2 separate regions of the Homo sapiens genome follow, and region 2 is linked to region 1. The links come from fine-mapping of genetic effects on gene expression. A gene starts in region 1. The other region holds a variant in brackets. All regions are shown on one strand. Distances are between the middles of the regions.

The links. PIP is the estimated chance that this variant, and not a neighbour inherited with it, causes the effect.
Region 2: its variant is fine-mapped to the expression of ARL8B in thyroid (GTEx, PIP above 0.99).

The regions. Positions count from the first base shown.
Region 1 is chr3:5,117,431-5,129,554 of GRCh38, forward strand. ARL8B (ARF like GTPase 8B) reads left to right here and starts at 4,862. Exons shown (of 7, transcript NM_018184.3): 1 at 4,862-5,158. The coding sequence starts at 5,036. LOC124906212 (a long non-coding RNA gene) reads left to right here and starts at 5,629. Exons shown (of 2, transcript XR_007095800.1): 1 at 5,629-6,286; 2 at 11,030-11,385. RefSeq lists silencers at 4,668-4,927, 8,314-8,608.
Region 2 is chr3:5,149,446-5,161,569 of GRCh38, forward strand. All of the region lies in intron 1 of ARL8B (ARF like GTPase 8B), which reads left to right. Among named protein-coding and RNA genes, the nearest start is that of EDEM1, 32 kb to the right of the region's middle. The variant GC/G (reference allele first, on the strand shown) is at 6,222.

The DNA.
Region 1 (12,124 bases):
GGAGTTCGAGACCAGCCTGGCCAACATGGTGAAACCCCATCTCTACTAAAAATACAAAAATTAGCTGGGTGTGGTGGCATGTGCCTATACTTCCAGCTACTCAGTGGGCTCAGGCAGGAGAATCACTTGAACCTGGGAGGCAGAGGTTGCAGTGAGCTGAGATCGCACCACTGCACTCCAGCCTGGGCGACAGAGCAAGATTCTATCTCAAAAAAACAAAAAGTAAATTGTATTTTGAACAGACAACCCATTTACATGTTTGAAAAGTCAAAGTTTGCCTCTAGGGGTATGTTGTAGAATAACTAAGATAGGCTGGGCACAGTGGCTCACGCCTGTATTCCCAGCACTTTGGGAGGCCCAGGTGGGTGGATCACTTGAGGTCAGGAGTTGGAGACCAGACTGGCCAACATGGTGAAACCCCATCTCTAATAAAAATACAAAAAAATTAGCCAGATGTGGTGGCACACGCCTGTAATCCCAGCTACCTGGGAGGCTGAGGCAAGAGAATCACTTGAACCTGGGAGGTGGATGTTGCAGTGAGCTGAGATTGTACCACTGCACTCCAGTCTGGGCAACAGAATGAGACTCTGTCTCCAAAAAAAAAAAAAAAACAGTAAAATAAAATAGGATAAATAAATAAATAAAAGAAAAAGAGAAAAGTCAAAGTGGTCTAAAAGTTATCTAGACAAGTCTCATTTCCATTTCTGCCACCGGACATCCAGTTTTTCCTACCCCCATAGGAAACCATTTTTATTAGTTTCCCAGTATTTCTTTATGCAGATACCATACACATATGCTTATATATGTATATATATGTATAAGCATATGCTTATATATGTATATATATGTATAAGCATATGCTTATATATGTATATATATGTATAAGCATATGCTTATATATGTATATATATGTATAAGCATATGTGTTATTATTTTCTCACCTTACATTCCAAATATCATTACGTACACAGTCTGAACCCTGGTTTTTTTGTTTTTTTGAGACAGTCTTTTTTTTCTGGGAGAGGGAGTCTTGCTCTGTTGCCCAGGCTGGGGTGCAGTGGCATGATCCCAGCTCACTGCAAGCTCTGCCTCTCGGGTTCATGCCATTCTCCTGCCTCAGCCTCCCAAGTAGCTGGGACTACAGGCGTCCGCCACCACTCCCGGCTAATTTTTTGTATTTTTAGTAGAGATGGGTTTTCACCATGTTAGCCAGGATGGTCTCGATCTCCTGTCCTCGTGATCCACCCGCCTCAGCCTCCCAAAGTGCTGGGATTACAGGCATGAGCCACCTCGCCCAGCCTTGAGACAGTCTTAATCTGTCACCCAGGCTGGAATGCAGTGGTGCAATCTCAGCTCATTGCAACCTCTGCTTCTTGGGTTCAAGGGATTCTCCTGCCTCAGCCTCATGAGTAGGTGGGATTACAGGCATGCACCATCACGCTTGGCTAATTTTTGTAATTTTAGTAGAGATGGGGTTTTGCCATGTTGGTTAGGCTGGTCTCGAACTCCCGGCCTCAAGTGATCTGCCCCCCCCCCCCCCAAAGTCCTGGGACTACAGGTATGAGCCACCGTACACAGCCATGAACCTTGATTTTTTTTTGTTTCTTGAAAATATTTCCTGATCATCATTCCTTATCAGTTGACAGATAACTTTCTTCTTCTTGTATTTTTTTTTACAGCTGCATAGTATTCCTTTTTGGGGACACATCCTGGTTAATCAGTTCCCTATTGATAGACACTAATTGCTTCCCATTGTAAACTAAAAATAAAATCCTGGGCTGGACCCGGTGGGTCACGCCTGTAATCCCAGTACTTTGGGAGGCTAAGGTGGGTGGATAATGAGGTCAAGAGATCGAGACCATCCTGGCCAACATGGTGAAACCCCATCTCTACTAAAAATACAAAAATTAGCTGGGCTTGGTGGCTCGCCTGTAGTCCCAACTACTCGGGAGGCTGAGGGAGGAGAGTTGCTTGAACCCGGGAGGCAGAGGTTGCGGTGAGCCGAGATTGCACCACTGCACTCCAGCCTGGCAACAGAGCGAGACTTGTCTCAAAAAAAAAAAAAAAATTCCTGGGCTGGGTGTGGGCATGGTGGCTCACGCCTGTAATCCCAATACTTTGAGAGACTGAAGCAGGAGGATCACTTCAGCCCAAGAATTCAAGGCTGCAATGAGCTATGATCTGCCATTGCACTCCAGCCTGGGCAACTGTGCTCGACTCTGTCTCAAAATCAAATAAACAAACAAACTAAGTCCCCTCAACTGACTAAACAGATCCTTCCTGGACAAAGAGATCCTAGGAAAATCTTTTTTTTTTTTCTTGAGACGGAGTCTCGCTGTCGCCCAGGCTGGAGTGCGGTGGCGCCATCTCGGCTCACTGCAAGCTCTGCCTCCCGGGTTCCCGCCATTCTCCTGCCTCAGCCTCCCGAGTAGCTGGGACTACAGGCGCCCGCCACCGTGCCCGGCTAATTTTATGTATTTTTAGTACAGATGGGGTTTCACCGTGTTAGCCAGGATGGTCTCGATCTCCTGACCTTGTGATCCGCCCACCTCGGCCTCCCAAAGTGCTGGGATTACAGGCGTGAGCCACCGCGCCCGGCCTATCCTAGGAAAGTCTTAAAAACTGAGTTCCTTCCCTCCACAAGATGGGAAGTCAGTCACACCTGGTTATACCTCCTCCCTTATGTCGTTTAGAAACAACAAACGACCGGCCGGGCGCGGTGGCTCAAGCCTGTAATCCCAGCACTTTGGGAGGCCGTAGGCGAGCGGATCACGAGGTCAGGAGATCGAGACCATCCTGGCTAGCAGGGTGAAACCCCGTCTCTACTAAAAATACAAAAAATTAGCCGGGCGTGGTGGCGGACGCCTGTAGTCCCAACTACTCGGGAGGCTGAGGCAGGAGAATGGTGTGAACCCGGGAGGCGGAGCTTGCAGTGAGCCGAGATCGCATCACTGCACTCCAGCCTGGGCGACAGAGCGAGACTCCGTCTCAAAAAAAAAAAAAAAAAAAAGAAAGAAACAACAAACGACCAACATTAACGTTAAAATAGAGATCACAAGACTGACAGAACAGACTCTTTGTGACAATTAGATACCAAATTATAAACAGGACCTAAGGCCATACTAGGCAAGAGTTAAATGACTAAGTGCAAGGTTTCTCTTTTTCTCTACCAGCTAAACCAGCACTGGCCTGGAGATAAACACAATTAAAACAGTTACAACTCTCTGCCAGATGCAGGCTAACTGACCTGTTCCACAAGCCTAACTATGGCTTTGATTAGACAAGAGACTGATTTCTGTAACTTTCTCCTGTTAAGAGACAACTAACCATGCATCCATGCATTGGTTCTGGCTGGCTTTTTCTTTTCTTTCTTTCTTTTTTTTTTTTTTGAGATGAAGTCTCGCTCTGTCACCCAGGCTGGCGTGCAGTGGCATGACCTCGGTCACTGCAACCTCTGCCTCCCGGAGTCAAGCGATTCTCCTGCCTCAGCCTCCAGCATAGCTGGGATTACAGGCGCGTGCCACCATGTCCCGCTAATTTTTGTATTTTTAGTAGAGACGGGGTTTCACCATGTTGGTCGGGCTGGTCTTGAACTCCCAACCTGAGGTGATCTGCCCGCCTTGACCTCCCAAAGTGCTGGGATTACAGGCATGAGCCACTGCACCCGGCCTGGGCTAATTTTTTGTATCTTTAGTAGAGACGGGGTTTCACCTTGTTGGCCAGGCTGGTCTCAAACTCCTGACCTCCTGATCCACCTGCCTCAGCCTCTCAAAGTGTTTGGATTACAGGCTGTGAGCCACCGCGCCCAGCCCAGTTCTGGCTGGTTTTACAGAGGCCAAGCACTTCAATACCTTTCCCGTCCCTGATTCACTTTCTGATGTGGAGGGCCTGATTATAATACTTTTACTTTATTTATTTTTTAATTGTTGTTTTTTGAGACGAGGGTCTCACTCTATCACCCAGGCTGAAGTGCAGTGGCATGATCTCAGCTCACTGCAACCTTCGCCTCCTGGGTTCACACAATTCTCCCACCTCGGCTTCCCAAGCAGCTGAGGCTACAGGTGCATGCCACCACGTTCGGCTAATTTTGTATTTTTAGTAGAGATGGGGCTTCACCATGTTGGTCAGGCTGGTCTCAAACTCCTGACCTCAGGTGATCTGCCCACCTTTGCCTCCCAAAGTGCTGGGATTACAGGCATGAGCCACCGCGCCCTGCCTGATTATAATACATTTAAATGTTAAGTCGCCACCCCAAATGAACATAGGTCATATGCAACATACAGATTTGTTCACTATGTGTGTAAGACCACCTTCATACATATTAATAGCTCCTTCCATAAGTTAAATATGTTTACTTGGCCAACTCCTCAATATAAATTCTTGTTGCACCCTTCCCTCTCTCAAAGTGCTTACTTTTGTTTTTTTTGGCCCGAGGCTGCACGTCCTGCCTACAGCTTATAATCCCCTTCTTAAGAAATAATGCTCTCCTTTCTAAATTTATAAACGGTGTCATTTTTAAGTTAACACTATCTTTTGCTACTACCAAAAATGTAGGACAGGAATTTTTATTCCACGCCAACTCTTCCAGAGTCTTGAAGTCTTCCTGCAGATTGTTAATGAACAATTATAGCAAAAAATGAATGAATGAATTAACGAATGTATAAGTGGATGAATGACGAATGAACCAACAATGAATGAATGTAGAGAAAGCCTCAAGGGGGCCCGAGGGTACGCTGTGCTGCGGAGCATGCCCACCAGGTGGCGATGCCAGCGGCGGGCGGGCCTGGCCGGATTGGCCGCGCCGCTCTTGCCGTGGGTGCCGACGGCGGCGCCGGGACGGGCGTGGGGGGTAGGGCGAGTCATATGATCCGCTCGGCTTCCTGGGTCTGGCTGCTGCCGCCCGCCGGTGTCCGCCCGTGTCGCGCCGGGGCACCAAGGAGCCGTTGGAGGGTCCGGGCGGAGGCCCGCTCGTGTGGAAGTCGTCGACGCCGCCGCTCGTCCGTCCTCCCGTCCGTTCTCGCTCCCGGCCGCCATCATGCTGGCGCTCATCTCCCGCCTGCTGGACTGGTTCCGTTCGCTCTTCTGGAAGGAAGAGATGGAGCTGACGCTCGTGGGGCTGCAGTACTCGGGCAAGACCACCTTCGTCAATGTCATCGCGGTGAGCGCCCGCCCACTCACTCGCCCGGGGCTCCGCAGCCAGGAGTCCGGCCCGGCGCTTCTCCAAGGCCTGAGTTGGGGCCCCCCTCGGCGCGATGGGACTGATGGCGGGGGGCGTGCGAAGCTGGGCCTGTCATCTCCCGAGGGCCAGCATTTGGAATTTCCCGCGTGTTGGCGGCGCGGGGAGTAGCACTGAGATCGGCAGCGGAAGGGTTAAGTCAGTGTAGACATTTTCCAAGGGCTGTGTCCTCAACGCCGCGGGGGCTCGGAAAGAGTTAAATTGAACTCGTCACATTTTTAAAGCGCTTGGGGATTGGGGTTTCCCTTGGGTTTGCCCAGTAGGGGCAGCCAAAGAGTTAAGTCCAGTCTGTCACTTTCCCAAAGGGTGGGATTTGGCAAATCCGTCAGCCGTACGAGAAAGCGTAAGCATTAAGAGCCTCTCTTAAGTTGCCACTTTGGACCAATAGACCCATTGTGAAAGCGGGAGACCAGTGTGAGCGCCTTCCTGAATTCTGTGGGCCGCTGGTCCCATCTAATTCAGTTACTTGTTTTCACCCGTCCCCCAGGCGCGGAGACCAAGCTCATTGCTGAGCTCCAGCTAGCCCACAATACATAGTATTTATTAAGCTAAGAGTTAATTGTCTTAAGCGACTAGATAAGATGGATCTGCAGTTAGCATAAAGTTAACTACCCTGCGAAAGAGGAGTTGGTCTTTAAATGGTGTTTTTCACTTGAAGAGAAAAGAAGGTACTGGGCAGGAACATAGCTTAGCAGGCCTAGGGAATGGGTGGAAGGAAAATTGCACTGAGGACTTACATAGAATGTGGTGTTTGTTCAGCAATGATTGAGTAGAAAGGTGATTGTTTCGTTTTGCTTGTTTGGTTGGTTGGGAAATAAATAGGAGTGAAAGATTTCGCCTCGATCTTTATTTAGAGCCCAAGAGTTGTTGTGACTCAGTTTTAGCTGGTAGTGGCTTGTACACGCCAGGGGAGTTTTAGAACTGTTCTGAAGAGAGATGGCAGCAGTTCTTCCACCTTTTCGATGACTGTTGAAATCCTGAAGATTAGCTGTCCGACTGGTTAGGTTACACAAGATGATTCAAACACAGCTTTCATGTTTGAGAAAATAGGTAACTTGTGATTCTTAGTCCTTGCACTAATAAAGCAACAGGAATGAGTAAGTCTTGGAGAAAAAGAGATTAGCAGAAACCCCAAAGTCCTTTGAAGAATGATGTATATAAGGAAGATTTACCTGCTTGTTGTTCGGCTCCTTTTCTAGTAGTATTATTATTAATTTTTTTTCTTGAGACGGAGTCTCGCTTTGTCCCCCAGGCTGGAGTGCAGTGGCGAGATCTCAGCTCACTGCAACCTCCACCTCCCAGGTTCAAGCGATTTTCCTGCCTCCACCTCCTGCGTAGCTGGGATTACAGACGTCCTCCACCACGCCCGGCTAATTACTTTTAGTAGAGATGGGTTTTGCTTTGTTGCTCAGGCTAGTCTCAAAACTCCTGACCTCATGTGATCCGCCCGACTCGGCCTCTTAAAATGCTGGGATTGCAGGTGTGAGCCACCGCGCCTGGCCTCCTATTGTAATATTATGATTTTTTGCGCTTGGAATGACTATCTTTCCGCAGGAATAGAAGAGTGGAATGTGTATCTAATACCACTAATTTTTTTTTTTTTTTTTTTTTTTTTTTTCTGGTAGAGACAAGATCTTCCTATGTTGCCAGGCCAGCCTTGAACTCCTGGGCTCAAGCGAGCCTCCTGCCTCGGCCTCCCAAAGTGCTGGCATTACAGGCATGAGCCACCGTTCCTGGCCTAATACCACTAAAATTAATGAGGAAACATGAACTTCGGGTTACATATTTATATTAGAATTTTTTTCTTTTCTTTTTTGGAGACAGGGTCTTGAGCTTTCACCCAGACTGGAGTGCAGTGGTGCAGTCGTAGCTCACTGCAGCCTCCAACTCCTGGGCTTATGTGATCTTCCCTGTCTCAGCCTCCCAAGTAGCTGGGACTACAGGCATGTGCTACCACCATGGCTCGCTATTTATTTTTAATTTTTATTTTTTATAAAGACGGGCTCTTGCTATGTTGCCAGGGCTGGTCTTGAGCTCCTGGCCTCAAGCAGTCTTCCTGCCTTGGCCTCCCAGCATACTGGGATTATAAGCCTGCTAGAGCTTTTATATAATATGGAAAAGATGAGGCATAAGCTTGAGTGAAGTTGAGCTCAGTTAACTGTAAATTTTCTCATATCCCCTTGAGATGAGAATTGGAGTCATCTTGTAAAACTTGCTCTTTGACAACATGGAATTAATGTTTCATGTGGATAGGTGTATTAATACAGCCAGTTGTATTTGTTGCAGTTGAGTTGTTATGCTTGGGAACTCTAAAAAGTTGAGCAAATCTTTGAGAAACTTCTTGGTGATTTTTATGCTTCTGTTTTCAGTAGACAGTGTAGCTTAATGAGCATGACCTTTGAAGTCAGACAGCCCTGGATTTGAAATCTGGCTCTGCCGCTTAGCAGCCTTACATCCTCTTTGAGTCCTTACTTTCCCATCTATTAAATGGAGGTAATGATATGTTTCTTACAGAGTTGCTCTAGGGATTAAATGACATGAAAGATGTTAAGTGGCTAGCACTCATACTGGCCCACAGAAGGGGATAGGTAGATGGTAACTGTTGTTATTTGTAATTGGGCGTACCTGTTTAATGCAGGAACGATGGCTTGAAAAATACTGAGAAGGGACTCAACTGGTATCATTTTCTACTTTGAATCACTGTATCTATCCAGATGTGGGCTGCAGTAGTGGATTTATGGATTGGGGAAAGTAATCGCATCATGTGTTCCCCCCTGCCCCGCCCCCACCATTAGATTATTATATTTAACAACAACAAAACTTCTGCAAAGCTGTTGAAGTCAAAGTGAACCAGTGGCTCCACCATTATCTTTTTTTTTTTTTTGAGACGGAGTCCCGCTGTGTTGCCCAGGCTGGAGTGCAGTGGCATGATCTTGGCTCACTGCAACCTCTGCCTCCTGGGTTCAAGCTATTCTCGTGCCTCAGCCTCCCGAGTAGCTGGGACTACAGGCGACTGCCACCATGCCCAGCTAATTTTTGTATTTTTAGTAGAGACGGGGTTTCACCATGTTGGGCAGGCTGTTCTCGAACTCCTGGTCTCAAGTAATATGCCTGCCTTGGTCTCCCAAAATGCTGGGATTACAGGCGTGAGCCACTGTGCCCAGCCCACTGTTATCATTAGACTATTCTTTTTAAAATTGTAATGGTGTGGGTAGCTTCAGTTAAGAAAAAAAAAGTCACAAAGATAAGGTGATGGATGTGTAATTGGCTTGAATTAGTCATTCCACACTGTAAACATGTATCAGAACATCTCATTGTACTCCATAAATGTATACAATTATGATTTGTCAATTAAAAGTAATATTAATTTAAAAAAGAAAAAAGACATCTGGGCTGTAATTGGCTGTGGCTTTTAAGATGCTGAAAGGGACCCCCTCAGTGAATTTCATACTTTTTTTTTTTTTTAACCTCAAGGCTCTAACCTAACCCCTGATTCTTATAGAATATGTTGAGGATGTAGTGATTAAAATCCAAGTTAGTGATTAAAGATGATTTTAGAGATTTTTAGGTAGAAACAATGTGTCCAAAATAGTAAGTTTAGCCTTTTAAAAAATCAGCTGCACTTTTTGTATTGTATATAAAATAGTTGCTTTATAGAATCAGAAATACAGATGTATTGAGTACTATGTGTCACTCTAGAAAGGTGACCATTTACTTATTCACATTTAAGAAGCGACTTCTCAGGTATGAAAAGCTTCAGCTGAAGCCAATTTTCTTTTTGTAAAAATCAACATTTTGTAAACATTAAAATGTCACTACATGTGCCTTAAACATTAAGGAAGATTTAATAGATGTCATTTAACTTACTCAAAAGGTTCATGAGACTGAATTACTATTATATGTAGGGTTTGGTTTGAGTCTAAAAGATAATGCAGCTTAGTTACAGAATGCTCAGACTTAGAATGCCTTTCCTTAGGATTTTAAAACTGAAATGATACCTAATTTAATCCAGTTTTATGTAGAGACACTTGATATATGTAGTGTTCTCTTTTGTTTTGAACATTATAAAAAAGAAACACCCTAGTCTTGTCTTTTCTGATTAGTGTCAAGGAATGAAGTATTTTTTCCATTGCTAACTGTTCTGGCAGTTATTGCACAATAAGTCATGTGCCTATATGTGTAATGTATATTGAGTAATCTTTATTTTTAACTGGGGCTTTTAGATATGTTATAGTTATTAAAAAATATCTAATAGGATTTGCCAAAATAATATAGGATAAATCTTATGGACATTATGTATTTTTTAAATGGAAGTATAAAAATTTGTCTACACTTTTGCACATTGTTGATACCTGAAAGGTTAATCCAAGGGAAAGTTTATTACTGCTGAGAATTAGGAAAAGAAGATATTTGGGAAGACTGTAGAAATATGAACCTAGAATCATTTTTTAAAGAGTTTGTAGAAACCTTGATTAAGTAGTCTAATTTTCCCCTCATTTTTTAGATGTGGCTAGCAGATCCAGTGAGGTTAAGTGGAATTCCAAGGCAACAAAGCTAATTCGTAGCAGAGATAGAATTAGAATCTGGGGCCAGTGTACTTTCTACTTTTCCCACCTCTTTAGATCCAGCTGAGGTTAGAACCATAGAACTGTGGATTGGGAGATCTTAATCCATTAAACATCTTTTTTGTATTTAATTTAATTTAAAAAATCAGCTGCAGTTTTTGTATCGTATATGAAATGTTTGCTTTATAGAATAAGAAATACAGACGTAATGAGTACTGTGTGTCTCTCTAGAGAGAGCATTTTAAATCCAGGCATCTTAAGCATACTGACTAACATTTGAGGACTATATATTTATCTATGAACATGAATTAGGAGAAGGAATGATAATCTGTGGAAAGTAAGAGTGGAATATTATGTTTGGATATTTAAATAACTGGCTAACAGGCATTACTGAGTTGTTGAACTACTTTTAGTATCTTTAAAAAGCAGAGGGAGATCAAGACCATCCTGGCTAATGCGGTGAAACCCCGTCTCTACTAAAAATACAAATAATTAGCTGGGTGTGGTGGTGGGCACCTGTAGTCCCAGCTACTCGGGAGGCTGAGGTAGGAGAATGGCGTGAACCTTGGAGGCAGAGCTTGCAGTGAGCCAAGATTGCGCCACTGCACTCCAGCCTGGGCAACAGAGCGAGACTCCGTCTCAAAAAAAAAAAAAAAAAAAAAAAAAAAAAGCGGAGGGCCAGGCGCAATGGCTTACGCCTGTAATCCCAGCACTTTGGGAGGCCAAGGCGGCCGGATCATGAGGTCAGGAGTTTGAGACCAGCCTGACCAACATGATGAAACCCCATCTGTACTAAAAATACAAAAATTAGCCTGGCGTTACTCAGGAGGCTGAGGCAGGAGAATTGCTTGAACCTGGGAGGCGGAGGTTGCGTTGAGCCGAAATTGAGCGACTGCACTCCAGCCTGGGCAACAGAGTGAAAATCCGTCTCAAAAAAAAAAAAAAAAAAAAAGCAGAAATAATTTTGTATTTGATTGTATTGCTTATTATTTAATTTCTTTGGAGGTAAGAATGGCAAAAACCATTTTTAAAGAAAATGGGCTGTGGTTCAAGTCTAGATGTTTTACACATCTGAAACTTGACTGGAGAAGCTAGTCTTCCAATAAGGTGGTCTTCAAGTATAGATTCTGAGTTGTGGAAAATGAGGCATCTTACAAAGGAACATCTCTACCTTCCATAAAGTTTTCTACCCTTCATCCCCGCTCCAATTATTTGTTTTTCCTTGCAGACCAAGAATCTTGAAAGCCAAATGTTCTCATTAAGAAGCTGTTAGAGTGCAATAATGCATTCTAAATGCCTGTCTTAGAAGATATTTCACAAGTTAATGGATTTTTTAAGTTTTTCAAAGATATAGTAAGTGGATGGTTACTGAACATGGATACAAAATACATTGAACCTATAAAAAAGTTACTCAAATATTATTAAAAAATTTTTTTTCTGAAATTTTTTTTGTGTTATCAAAACAATACAGGCTCATTAGCGGAGATGTGAAAAGAATAGTATAAGGTAGAAGAAGCCACTTATTTCTACCATCCAAGATTAACTACTGTCAACATTAAAAGCATTTCGTTTTTGTCTTCTTAATGTGTATATCCAGATGTCTTTTAAAAAGTTCTGAGATAATATTACTTATAATGCTTTATATTCTGGTTTAATTGTTACAGTGTATGCATTTTTCTATCTAAAACATTTTTCATGTCTTCATAGTTTATTCCATTGTGGTATGTCTTGTGGATATGCCATAACATATTTGGTAATTCCCTTATTGGACATTTGAGGGATTTTTCCTATGTTTTCCTATTGTACTCAATTTGATCTGCACTTCCTGAGGATGTGTTCCAGAGTTGGTATTTCTGGGTCAAAAACGCATTTTATGTCATATGGCCAAATTGCTTTCCAGAAAGTGTACACTCCCACTGAGAAGGTCTGAACAGTTTTTGTTTTTTGTTTTTTGTTTTTCCAGATAGAGTCTCGCTCTTGTTGCCCAGGCTGGAGTGCAGTGGTGTGATCTTGGCACACTGCAACCTCCACCTCTCGGGTTCAAGCAATTCTCCTGCCTCAGCTTCCCAAGTAGCTGGGATTACAGGTGTTTGCCACCTCGCCCAGCTAATACTGAGCAGATTTCATATATAAAGTTGGACTTTGGTTAAGCACTTTGTCCTCTGGTATTTTTTAGGACAAACATAGTTTTGTTGATGAAGTAGAACGGTATTTTAAAATTATCCTATTAGATACTGCTCTGTTTGTGTTTAATATATTTTAAGAAGTTCCTTTTTATATTTCAGCAACTGCCAAGACTGATAACTATAGAGAACATAATTCT
Region 2 (12,124 bases), 32 kb after region 1:
CTTGGAGACACCATCCCGTGTGTGGTAGGCAGGCACACCTGGGGCAGTTACGACAGGCAATTTATCTCCTAGCACACAAGTCCCTCCCCCAGTTCTTCATTGGTTGAGTACTGTGGAGTTACAATCTTCCCAGATGTGTAAGTTTTATTATCACCCTTAGAAGGTTATATCCTCGTCCCCTTCCCCACTTAAGTTTCGATTTCCCAATAACGAAACTTTCTTTCCTTTTATGGGCTGACCCCTCTTCTACAGTCTGTTCACTTATCATGACCTTCTAGGTGCATGAGCTGTGCAGTTTGTTACATCCGCAGGCTGGCTGCCAGTCCTTAGGTTTATTATGACTTGAAAATGGACCATTTAAAATGTTTTCTCACACCCCTAATCCCTACCACATTTGGTTGGACAAACTTGACAATTTAGACCATTCAGCACATGATAGATGTTTTAGTCAAGGTCTTGACCCCAATTGCACAAATCCTTTAGTTTGTAGAACTTTGCTGTGGATTGGCATGAATATTCTAGCTGCAGTGATATATCCCTCTTGCTTGCTGTTAAGTATCTTATATCATTGTACTTGTTTTAGGACAGTGTGTCAGTCCTTTTGAATATTGTGAGCTACTTTTTGTTATGAGGGTAATGCAGGGCTCATAAAATGAGTTTGGAAGTGTTCGTGCCTCTTCTGTTTTTGGAGATTATGTAGAATTCGTGTTATTCTTTAATGTTTGGTAGAATTAGGGCTGGGCACGGTGGCTTACGCTTGTAATCCCAGCACTTCGGGAGGCTGAGGCAGGGGGATCACCTGAGGTTGAGAGTTCAAGACCAGCCTGACTAACATGGTGAAACCCCATCTCTACTAAAAATACAAAAATTAGCCAGGCGTGGTGGCACACGCCTGTAATCCCAGCTACTCAGGAGGCTGAGGTAGGAGAATTGCTTGAACCCAGGAGGCAGAGGTTGCAGTGAGCCGAGATCTTGCCACTGCACTCCAGCCTTGGTGACAGAGCGAGAATCCATGTCAAAATAAATAAATAAATAAATAAATAAATAAAGTTTGGAGCCAGGCATGGTGGCTCACATCTGTAATCCCAGCACTTTGGTAGGCCAAGGTGGGCAGATCACTTGAGGTCAGGAGTTCAAGACCAGCCTGGCCAACATGGTGAAACCCTGTCTCTACTAAAAATACAAAACTTAGCTGGGCGTGGTGGCACATGCCTGTAATCCCAGCTACTCAGGAGGCTGAGGCAGGAGAATCACTTGAACCCGGGAGGGGAAGCTTGCAGTGAGCCAGGATTGCTCCACTGCACTCCACCATGGGTGATAGAGTGAGACTCTGTCTCAAAATAAAATAAAATAAAATAAAATAGTTGGTAGAATTCAGCAGGAAAATAATTCTAGTCCCGGGATTTCTTTTTAAGAAGCTTTGAAGTTAGTGATTCAATTTCTTCAGTAGAGAGAGGGCCGTTTTTTCTTCCAGTGTGTTTGGTAGTTTGTGATTTTCAAGAAATAGGTTCATTTCATCAAAGTTGTTGAATTTATGAGCATAGCGTGTTTATAGTATTCTCTTATTTATCTTTTTTAATGTCGGTGGAGTCTGTAGTGATGTCCTTACTGATATTGGTGATTTTTATTTATTTTCCTTTGTTTATCAATTTTAATTATCTTTTTAGAGAATCAGGATCTTTTGGTTTCATTGATTTGCTTCAAAGTTTTTCTGTGTTCAGTATTATTTACTGCTCTTACCATTGCCCTCTGCTTGTTTTGGATTTATTTTGCTCTTTTTCTAATTTCTTAAATGGGGGGCTTAGATTGTTAATTTGAGACATTTCTTCTTTTCTAATATAAGCATTTGAAGCTGGGCATAGTGAAGTGTGCCTGTAGTCCCAGCTACTTGGGAGGATGAGGTAGAAGAATTGCTTGAACTCAGGAGTCTGAGGCTGCAGTGAGCTATGATTATGTCACTGCCCTCCAGCCTGGGCGACAGAGCAAGACCCTGTCTCTAAAATATATAAGCATTTGAGTCTATAAATTTTCTTCTGAGCACTGATTAGCTGCATTATACAAATTCTGACATGTTTCTCATTTAGTTCAACATGTTTTTATTTTCCCTTGAGGCTTCCTTCTGTGACCAATAGATTATATAGCCAAGTATTTGGTTGTTTCCAGATAGCTTTATATTAATTATTTCTAGTTTAATTCCATTATGGTGAAAGAACATACTTTGTATGATTTTTGTATGACTTGAATCCTTTTACATTTGTGAAGCTTTTCTCCCCCCACCCCCCCCCTTGGAGATAGGATCTTGCTGTCTTCCTCCAGGCTGGGCTGCAGTGGTGTGTGATCACGGCTGGCTGCACCCTCAACCTCCCAGGCTCAAGCAGTCCACCCACGTCAGCCTCAGCCTCTTGAGTACCTGGGACCACAGGCTCACACGACCACGTCTGGCTAATTTTTATAATTTTTTTGTAGAGACCGAGTCTTGCCATGTAACTTAGGCCAGTCTTGAATCCTCCCACCTTGGCCTCCCAAAGTATCGAGACTGTAGGCATGAGCCATTGTGCCCAGGCAAAGCTTTGATTTGTGGCTCAGAATATGGTTGAGTGAATGTTCCCATGTGCATTTGAAAAGAATGTGTATTCTTTTTTAATGAAATGTTCTGTAACTGTGAGGTAGATCCAGTTGGTTGTTGTGGTAAGTTCTACATCCTTGCTGGTTTTCTCCCTATCAATTAACATGAGAGGAATGTTGAAATCTCTAATTATAATTGTGGGTTTATTTCAATTCTATCAATTTTTGCTTTATGTGTTTTGAAGTTTTGTTAGGTGCATACTCATTTAGGATGTTATACCTTCTTCTTGGTGAATTCATCCTTTTATTATGTAATGTCCCTCTTTATCCTTGGTATATTTTCTTGCTTTGAAGTCGGCTTTTTCTTCTGATATTAAAATAATTATTTCAGCTTTCTGTGATAAGTGGTTGCATGGTGTTTGTCTTTCTATCTTTTTACTTCTAACTTACCTCTCCCTAAATTATATTAAAGTGGGTTTCTCTTCTTTCCTCTTTTCTTTCTTCTTGCTCTGTTGCCAGGCTGGAATTCAGTGATGTGATCAAGGCTCACTGCCACCTCCAACTCCTGGACTTAAACAATCCTCCCACCTCAGCCATTTGAGTAGCTTGGGACTAAGGGCGCGTGCCGCCACACCTAGCTAATTTTTAAATTTTTTGTAGAGATAGAGTCTTGCTAGGTTGCTCAGGCTGGTCTCGAACTGCTAGCCTCAAGTGATCCTCCTTCCTAGGCCTCTGAAAGTGCTGGAATTACAGGCATGAGCCACTGTGCCTAGACAAAATCTGGGTTTATTGAAGACAACATATGGTTGGGTCTTTTTAAAAAAATACATTTTGACAGTTTCTGTCTTTTCATTGATGTGTTTAGACCATTGCCTTTTAATGTAATTATTGATATTTAAGACTTAGTTTAAACATAGTATTTAGTTCAAATAATCATTTAATTATTTGTTTTCTGTTCAGTGCCTTTGGTTTTGTTCTTATTTTACCTTTGCTGATTTCAGCGGAGTGTTTTTATATTAATTTTAATTTCTCTATTGGGGTTTTGACTGTTCCTTGCAGTGGTTCTTCTAGAGTTTACAAGTATGCATTTCCCAGTCCACTTAGAATTAATGTATATCACTTAATGTAGAATGTAGAAACCTTAGCAACGTAGAGGCCCCTTTACCTTCCCCCCTTTATATTGTAGTCATTATCGGTAATATACTGATAGGACTTGGCAGTGTCCCCACCCAAATCTCCTCTTTGAAGTCCCACAATTCCCATGTGTCATGGGAGGAACCTGGTGGGAGGTGATTAAATTATGGGGCAGATCTTTCCCACGCTGTTTTCCTGATAGTGAATTAATCTTATGAGATCTGATGGTTTTAAACAAGGGAGTTTCTCTACACAAGCTCTCTCTTTGCCTGCTGCCATCCATGTAAGAGTGACTTGCTCCTGCTTGCCTTCCACCGTGATTGTGAGGCTTCCCCAGCCACATGGAACTGTTAAATCCATTAAACCTCTTTCTTTTGTAAATTGCCCACTCTTGGATATGTGTTTATCAGTAGCGTGAAAATGGACTAATACGTACACCTACCTAAATGGAAAACGACACCAATGTCGAATTTTACCTATTCTTTGAAAAAAAAATTTTTTCCTTTCAGCCATCAAACATTTTAAAGTATTTAAGGGGAGAAGAGTTTATTATATTTACCCAGGTATTTATCATTTCTTTTGATTTCTCTTCATTTTTGAAGTCCCACCTTTCCCTCTGGTAGTTTCTCTTATGCCTGGAGAACTTCCTTTAACATTTCTTTTAGAGCACGTCTGCTGGCTACAGATTTTAGTTTAGTTTAGTTTTCCTGCATCTGAGAATGTCTTTATGACCTTAATTCCTAAAAGATATTTTTGCTGAATATAGAATTTCAGACTGATAGTCTTTTTTTTTTTCCCCCTCCAGCACTTCGGAAGATGCTTTGATTGTTTCTGATGGGAAATTTGTAGTAATTTCAATTGTTATTCTCTAATGTCATGCATCATTTCTCTTTGGCTGCTTTTAAGATATTTTCTTGTCTTTGGTTATAGCAGTTTAATTGTGATATATCTGGATGTGGATTTCTTTCTGCTTACCCTGCTTAGTGTTTGTTGTACTTCTTGACTGTAATTTTGTCTTTGGAAATTTTGGAAATTTTCAGTCATTTTTTTCAAGTATTTTTTCCTGAATTACTCTCTCTCTTATTCCAGGACTTTGACATGACTGTTAGTCCTTTTTATATTGTCCCACAGATCCTGTTCATTTCACAGTTTTGTTCATTTTTTAAAAAAAAATTTTATTGTGGTAAAATAACTTTTTTTTTTTTTTGAGACAGGGTCTCGCTGTGTTGCCCGAGGGTGGAGTGCACTGGTACGATCTTGGCTCAGTGCAACCTCTGCCTTCCAGGTTCAAGTGATTCTCATGCCTCAGCCTCCCGAGTAGCTGGGACTATAGGCATCCACTACCATGCCCAGCTAATTTTTGTTTTTTTGTAGAGATGGGGCTTCACTATGTTGGCCAGGTTGTGTCTTCAAGATTTTTAAGTGTTCAGTGATGTTAAGTACCTTCATATTGAATGCAACCATTACTGCTATCCATCTCCAGGAACTCTTTTTATCTTGTAGAACTGAAACTCTGTACCCATTAAACAGTAACTCCTCATTCACCCCAGCACCACCCTAGCAACCACTATTCTACATTCTGTCTATGATTAGTCTTGCTCTGTTGCCCGGGCTGGAGTGCAGTGGCACGATCTTGGCTCACTGCAACCTCTGCCTCCGGGGTTCATGTGATTCTCCTGTCTCAGCCTTCTGAGTAGCTGGGATTACAGGGGCATGCCACCATGCCCGGTGGATTTTTGTGGTTGTTTTTGTTTGTTTGTTTGTTTTTAAAGTAGACTTGTGTTTTCACTATGTTGGCCAGGCTGGTCTCGAACTCCTGACCTCAAGTGATCCTCCCACTTCAGCCTCCCAAAGTGCTGGGATTACAGGCCTGAGCTCCTGGGCTTGGCCCAAGTTACTATCCTTTCATTTCAACCTGCAGAATTCCCTTTATTTTATCTTACAGGTCAGGTCTAGTAGTAATTTCCTCAGCTTTTGTTTATCTGGGAATGTTTTAATTTTTCTCCAACTTCTGAAGGACGTTTTAGCTGAAAATAGGATTCTCGGTTAACAGTTTTTGTTTTTTCATTTAGCACTTTGAATATATTAGCCCATTGCCTTCTGAATTCTGAAGTTTCTGATAAATCTGCTGCTACTATTGATTATTTATATTTGATGAGTTGCCTCTTGCTGCTTTCAAGATTATATCTGTCTTTGTCTTTTAATAGCATGTTTATAATTTGTCTTGGTATAGATCTCTTTAAGTTCATCCTACTTGGAGTTTGATGAGCTTCTTGGATGTTTATGTTCATGTCTTTCACCAAATTTGGGGAGTTTTGGGTCATTATTTCTTCAAATTATGTCTCTGCCTCCTATTATCTGTCTTCTTTTAGGACTTCCACAGTGTGCATGTTGGCTTTCTTGATGGTGTCCCATAGGTCCCCTGGGCTCTGTTCACTTTTCTTCATTTTTTTTTTCTTTCTCTGACTCAGACTGAATAATTAATTCCATTTGTCCTATCCTCAGGTTTGTTGATTCCCCGT[GC/G]CCCCCCACCCCCGCCTGGTCAAATCAGCCTTCGTGTTCCTCTAGTAAATTTTGCATTTGCTTTATTGTACTTTTCAACTCTGAACACTTTCTTTTTGGCATCTTTTTCGGTTTTCTACCTCTTTATTGGTATTTCTATTTTGTTCGTACATAGTTTTCTTGCATTTTTCTCAGTGTTTTTTTTTTGTTGTTGTTGTTCTTTGAGTACCTTTAAGATAATTTTTGTGTGTGTGTGTGTGTTGTTTTTGTTTTTGAGACAGGGTCTTGCTCTGTCACCTAGGCTGGAGTGCAGTGGCGCGATCTCAGCTCACGGCAACCTCCGCCTCCTAGGTTCAAGTGATTCTTGAGCCTCAGCACCCCTAGTAGCCAAGACTACAGGTGCGCACCACCATGCCCATCTAATTTTTGTATTTTTGTTAGAGATGGCGTTACACTATGTTAGCCAGGCTGGTCTCAAACTGCTGACCTCAAGTGATCTGCCTGCCTCAGCCTCCCAAAGTGCTGGGATTATAGGCGTCAGCCCCCGCACTTGGCCTAAGATAATTGTTTACTGGTCTTCCTCAGGGTCAGTTTCTGTTGGTTAATTTTTTTTCCTTTGAATGGACCATACTTCCCTGTCTCTTTTATGCTTTGTGATTTTTTTTTGTTGAAAACTGGAAATTTGAATCTAATAATGTTGTAACCCTGGAAATCAGACTCTCCCCCTTCCCCAGAGTTTACTGCCTTTTTTTTTTTTTCAGTTGTTCGTTTGTTTGGTTTTGTTTTTTGAGACGGAGTCTCACATTGTCACCCAGGTTGGAGTGCAGTGGCACGATCCTGTCTCACTGCAACCTCTGCCTCCCAAGTTCAAGCGATACTCTTGCCTCAGCCTCCAAGTAGCTGGGATTACAGGCACACACCACCATGCCCAGTGAATTTTTGTATTTTCAGTAGAGATGGGGTTTTGCCATGTTGGCCATGCTGGTCTCCAACTCCTGACCTCAAGTGATCCACCCGCCTTGGCCTCCCAAAGTGCTGGTATTATAGGCCTGAGCCACCATGCCCGGCCTCAAATGGGATTTCAGGCATGCGCCACCACACCCAGCTAATTTTTGTGTTTTTAGTAGAGATGGGATTTCACCATGTTGGCCAGGCTGGTCTTGAAATCCTGACCTCAAGTGATCCCTGTCCCTGCCTCCCCGCCCCCAGCCTCCCAAAATGCTAGGATTACGGACATGAGCCAGTCACTGTGCCCAGCCATGATTCTTCATATGTTCAGTTATTTTGGATACTTTTGGATTCTTCTTTTATTCTTCTTCATTTTTCAGTTGTTTTGGATACTTCGAGTACTGCGACATTCTAGGTTTTGTTTAAATCCTGTGGAGAATATTGATTTGTTATTTTGTTTTGTTATAGCAGACAGTTAACTCAGTTTAGGCCACAAGATCCAACCCACCTTCTATGGGCTTTGGTTCTAATATGATGTTAGTTTTCAAAGCCTTGCTGGTGCTATTTGGGTCATTTCTGGCTATGTGCCACACAGGGGTCAACCAGGCACTTGGGTGGTGGTCTACCTTATAGTTTAGTTCTCAAAGCCTTTGTGCTGTTGGGATCAGATCCATATGTCACAGCTTGGGGGTGAGCCCAGGAGTTCATACACAACTTTATCAGATGTATTACTCCAGTTCGTTCCCTTCTGAGTTTCCTTGATACTGTCTTAGTCTCCCATCTCCCACTTCCTGGTCCTGAGCCTGGAAAGCTTGAGGCTCCTGCCTTTCCCTCAGTTGAATCTGTCTCAGGGGCCACAAGGTAGGAGAAGGAATCGCAAAAAAACAAACAAAACAAAAAAACCCCCAAAGCAACACAGGTTCTTTCTCCATACCACTCTACTCCCTCCCCTCCCCAAAGCACTTAAGTTAGACCACAGTTTTCTGGTCAGAGAGGATTTTCTTCTCCGTAAGTACAGCTGGTCCATAGCTGCCTTAAGTGTGCACAGCTTCCAGGCTTGGTTTTGTCTGGTTGCAATGGCAAGAGAGAGGGTGGAAATAATGGATTTCTCCCACTCTGTATTCCTCACACTCCCAACCTTATCGCCCCCCATATACACACACATACCTTATACCAGAAAGAGAAATCTCCTCTTGGAGCTTTATCTCTTCATGGCTGGTATACATTTCTAGAAATTGGGCTGCCTTTGTATCCAGACTGGAAGATTGGGAGAAAACAAGCAAAAGTAAGAAAGAGCACCAGATAGATTGTGCTTCAAGTTCTAGTTCCCTTCTCAAATCTATCTGCTACCATTTACTTTTCAGAGTCCTCAGATAGGTTTTTTTTTTTAATGTATTTTGAGATGGAATCTTGCTCTGTTGCCCAGGCTGGAGTGCAATGGAGCGATCTCAGCTCACTGCAGCCTCCGCCTCCTGGGTTCAAATGATTGTCCTGCCTCAGCCTCCAAAGTAGCTAGGATCACAGGTGCTCACCACTTTGCCACCACTCCCGGCTCATTTCTGTATTTTTAGTAGAGGTAGGGTTTCACTATGTTGGCCAGGCTGGTCTTGAAATTATGACCTCAAGTAATCTTCCCACCTTGGCCTCCCAAAGTACTGGGATTACACGTGTGAGCCACGCGCCCAGCCTGGGGCATGCATTCTGTCCAGGGTTTTAGTTGTATTCAGTGGAAGGAACAGGTAATGGTATTCAGTGGAAGGAACAGGTAATGTCACGTTTCATGGACCGTGGGTGATGGTAGCAAACATTGAATGCTTTCCCTGTACCAAGCACTGTTCAAAATGCTGTATGTGTTTTAATTCATTTTACTTTTAAACAGCTCTGTGAGGTAGAGACTGTGGTTATCTCCATTTTATATTTGGGCAAAGTAAGGCATTACAAAGTTAAGGAATGTGTAAGAAGGGCACACTGATAGGCAAGAGGTAACGTCAGAGTTGTTACCTAGTGTGACTGTCTCCAGGGTCCGTTATAACCACCAGAATAACACTGCCTGTATATCATTGTTTTAACATTTATTACCTGAAAAAATGAACAGGGTCTCTTAGAGTAATTCGAGAGCCACTGAAACTCTTTATGTTATACCGAAATGGTTGTTTATCAGTTATGTGACTACTGTTTTAGTAGGCTTTATAAATGACATTTAAAATTTCATTTTATTAGTCCCTTGATTCTGTCTTACTTTAATAGGTCTTGATAAAGATTAGGCTTTTTAAATTTTAATGAATATGAAATTCATTCTGTTGTTTATGGCTTACAAATTTGTAGTATATGCTGAAGTCTTCCTCCGTAAGGGATTTATTTGTTTTTCTAAAACTGAAGGACAGCAATGCATGGTGGCTCATGCCTGTAACCCCAGCACTTTGGGAGGCCAAGGTTGGAGGATCACTTGAGCGCAGGAGTTCGAGACCAGCCTGGGCAACATGGCAAAACCCTACATGCGGGCATGCACCACCACGCCTGGCTCAAATTTTGTATTTTTGGTACAAAATACAAAAGTGAGCCAGACGTGGTAGTGTGTGCCTGTAGTCCCAGTTACTTGGGAGGCTGAGGAGGGAGGATCCCCCGAGCCCGGGAGGTTGAGGCTGCGGTGAGCCACGATCGCATCAGTGTACTCCAGCTTGGGTGACAGAGTGACTCTGTCTCAAAAAAAAAAAAAAAAAAAAAAATGCCAGGTGCGGTGGCTCATGCCTGTAATCCCAGCACTTTGGGAGGCCGAGGTGGGTGGATCACCTGAGGTTGGGAGTTCAAGACCAGCCTGACCAATATGGAGAAACCCTGTCTCTACTGAAAATACAAAATTAGCTGGGTGTGGTGGTGCATGCCTGTAATTCCAGCTACTTGGGAGGCTGAGGCAGGAGAATCCCTTGAACCTGGGAGGTGGAGTTTGGGGTGAGCTGAGATCGCGCCATTGCACTCTAGCCTGGGCAACAAGAATGAAACTCCGTCTCAAAAAAAAAAAAAAAAAAAAAAAGAGAAAAAGAAAAAAGACTGAAGGATTTTTGTTACATACATATCTTACTAAGATCATTTGGGTAGCTCTAGAAATCCCCCTTTTTAAGTTCAGTAATAGAAACCTAGAAATAGATTTAGAAAGAAACTTTTTTACAGTTTTTTTTTATGAACAAGCAGCATTTGTACTCATAGAAGGGCACACAATGACAAGTCTTTTTCTCATTTTAGTTCCCAAAATACCCAGTTTTCCCAAGAAAGAAGAAAATAAACTTCTAAATAAAGTTATTTTCTTAATTTTAAAAAGTTTTTATGTTAGAAACGCAAACATTCAAAAAGTAGTACAGATGTTTAGAGACCAACCAGGACAATAGTATCAAGGCCTGAAAATGTGACTGGTATACTAATAACCTCAACACTCATGCTCCCTACTTAAGAACCCCACACAGCCTGCATGTGAACGGTAATCATCTTTTTATATAAAAATGCAGGTGTTTATTAAGGATTATGGCCGACCTTTGATTTTCATGGGAAATATATCCAGATAACTTTAGTGACTTCACAAGTTGACAAAAAGTGTTATTTGCTTGAGCTCTCTAGCACTAAGATTTCTTTTAGTGTCCCTTTTTATGTTGCTGTTGGCTCATCAATGTTTCTGAATATTTGAGTGAAACTGCTGGTTGGTTGACAAGGGATACTCACTAGCAAACTAATCACAGACAAGCAAGTTGAATTTTTATTCAGCAGTTTTTTGGATATGGATTTAGTAGCACCGTTATTAGAATGCTGTTAATGAAAGGTAGAGTGATCATATGAAATAATCTTTAGAGACCTTTTAAAATGACTATTTTTCAGGAGTAGAGGTAAGCAAGAATGAGTTTTCAGGCTCCTAATTGAAATTGTGGTTTGGAGAACATTTTAATCCTCTAGGGTTGTCTTTGTAAAGGAAGTTGCTGCAGAGTAGCTCCCTTTGTATTAACAGGCAGTAGAGTTAGTTGTTTCAAGTGAGTTAGAATTTTAGAATTGGAACGACAGCATGTAATTAGTTGGAGAGTTCCTATGCCATTACGCTTTATAAAAAGTTATCTAGATGTGATATGACCAGTTGATCCCCTGTAATAAAAACAATTAATTTTCTAGAGAATTTTTATCTGCTGTATTCAATTTTCATAGCATAATGCTGAAGAAAATGTAATGAGTTTTTCACTGAGTTTCGTTGTTCCCATTCAAAAAGAACTATTTAAAAATCCATGTTGCTACTATTTGGGATGTTATAGATCCTGACAGGATAAATAAAACTTGCCACTAGTGTTTTTTTGAGACAGAGTCTGGCTTTGTCCCCCAGGTGTCTGTCCTCCAGGGTAGAGTGCAGTGGCACCATCTCAGCTCACTCTAACCTCTGCCTTCCAGGCTCAAGCCATCTTCCCACCTCAGCCTTCCAAGTAGCTTGGGACCGCAGGCATGCCCCATCACACCTGGCAAATGTTTGTATTTTTTGTAGAGATGGGGTCTTGCTTTGTTATCCAGGCTGGTTTCAAGCAATCCACCCACTTTGGCCTCCCACGGCCGGGGATTACAGGGGTGAGGCACTGTACCAGCCTTTACCACTAGTTATCTTGAAAAAATAAATGATTCAGCCCCTGTCCCATAAGGCAAATCTGATTGTTTGCCAGATTACCATAAACTCAGCAACATCAAAAAAAGACAAAACAAAAACCCAGCAATATTAACACTGAAACTTGCAGTCTTGCCTTAAGGTGTGGTCCTCAGTCTGAAGTGTATCAAGAGCCCCACTGACATCAGAGAGGCAATGTTTGAGTGGTTTGCAAAAAACAGCACAGCAGTTAAGAGTTAAATATTTCATCTTAAGGGTTTGAGTGGGTCTGTTTGTTTGCCTCATCTAAAGGCTAGCTGTTCGGGAGCAGGAAAGAAGAAAAGAAGCAAAGCCAGCAGTAAACACTTGAGG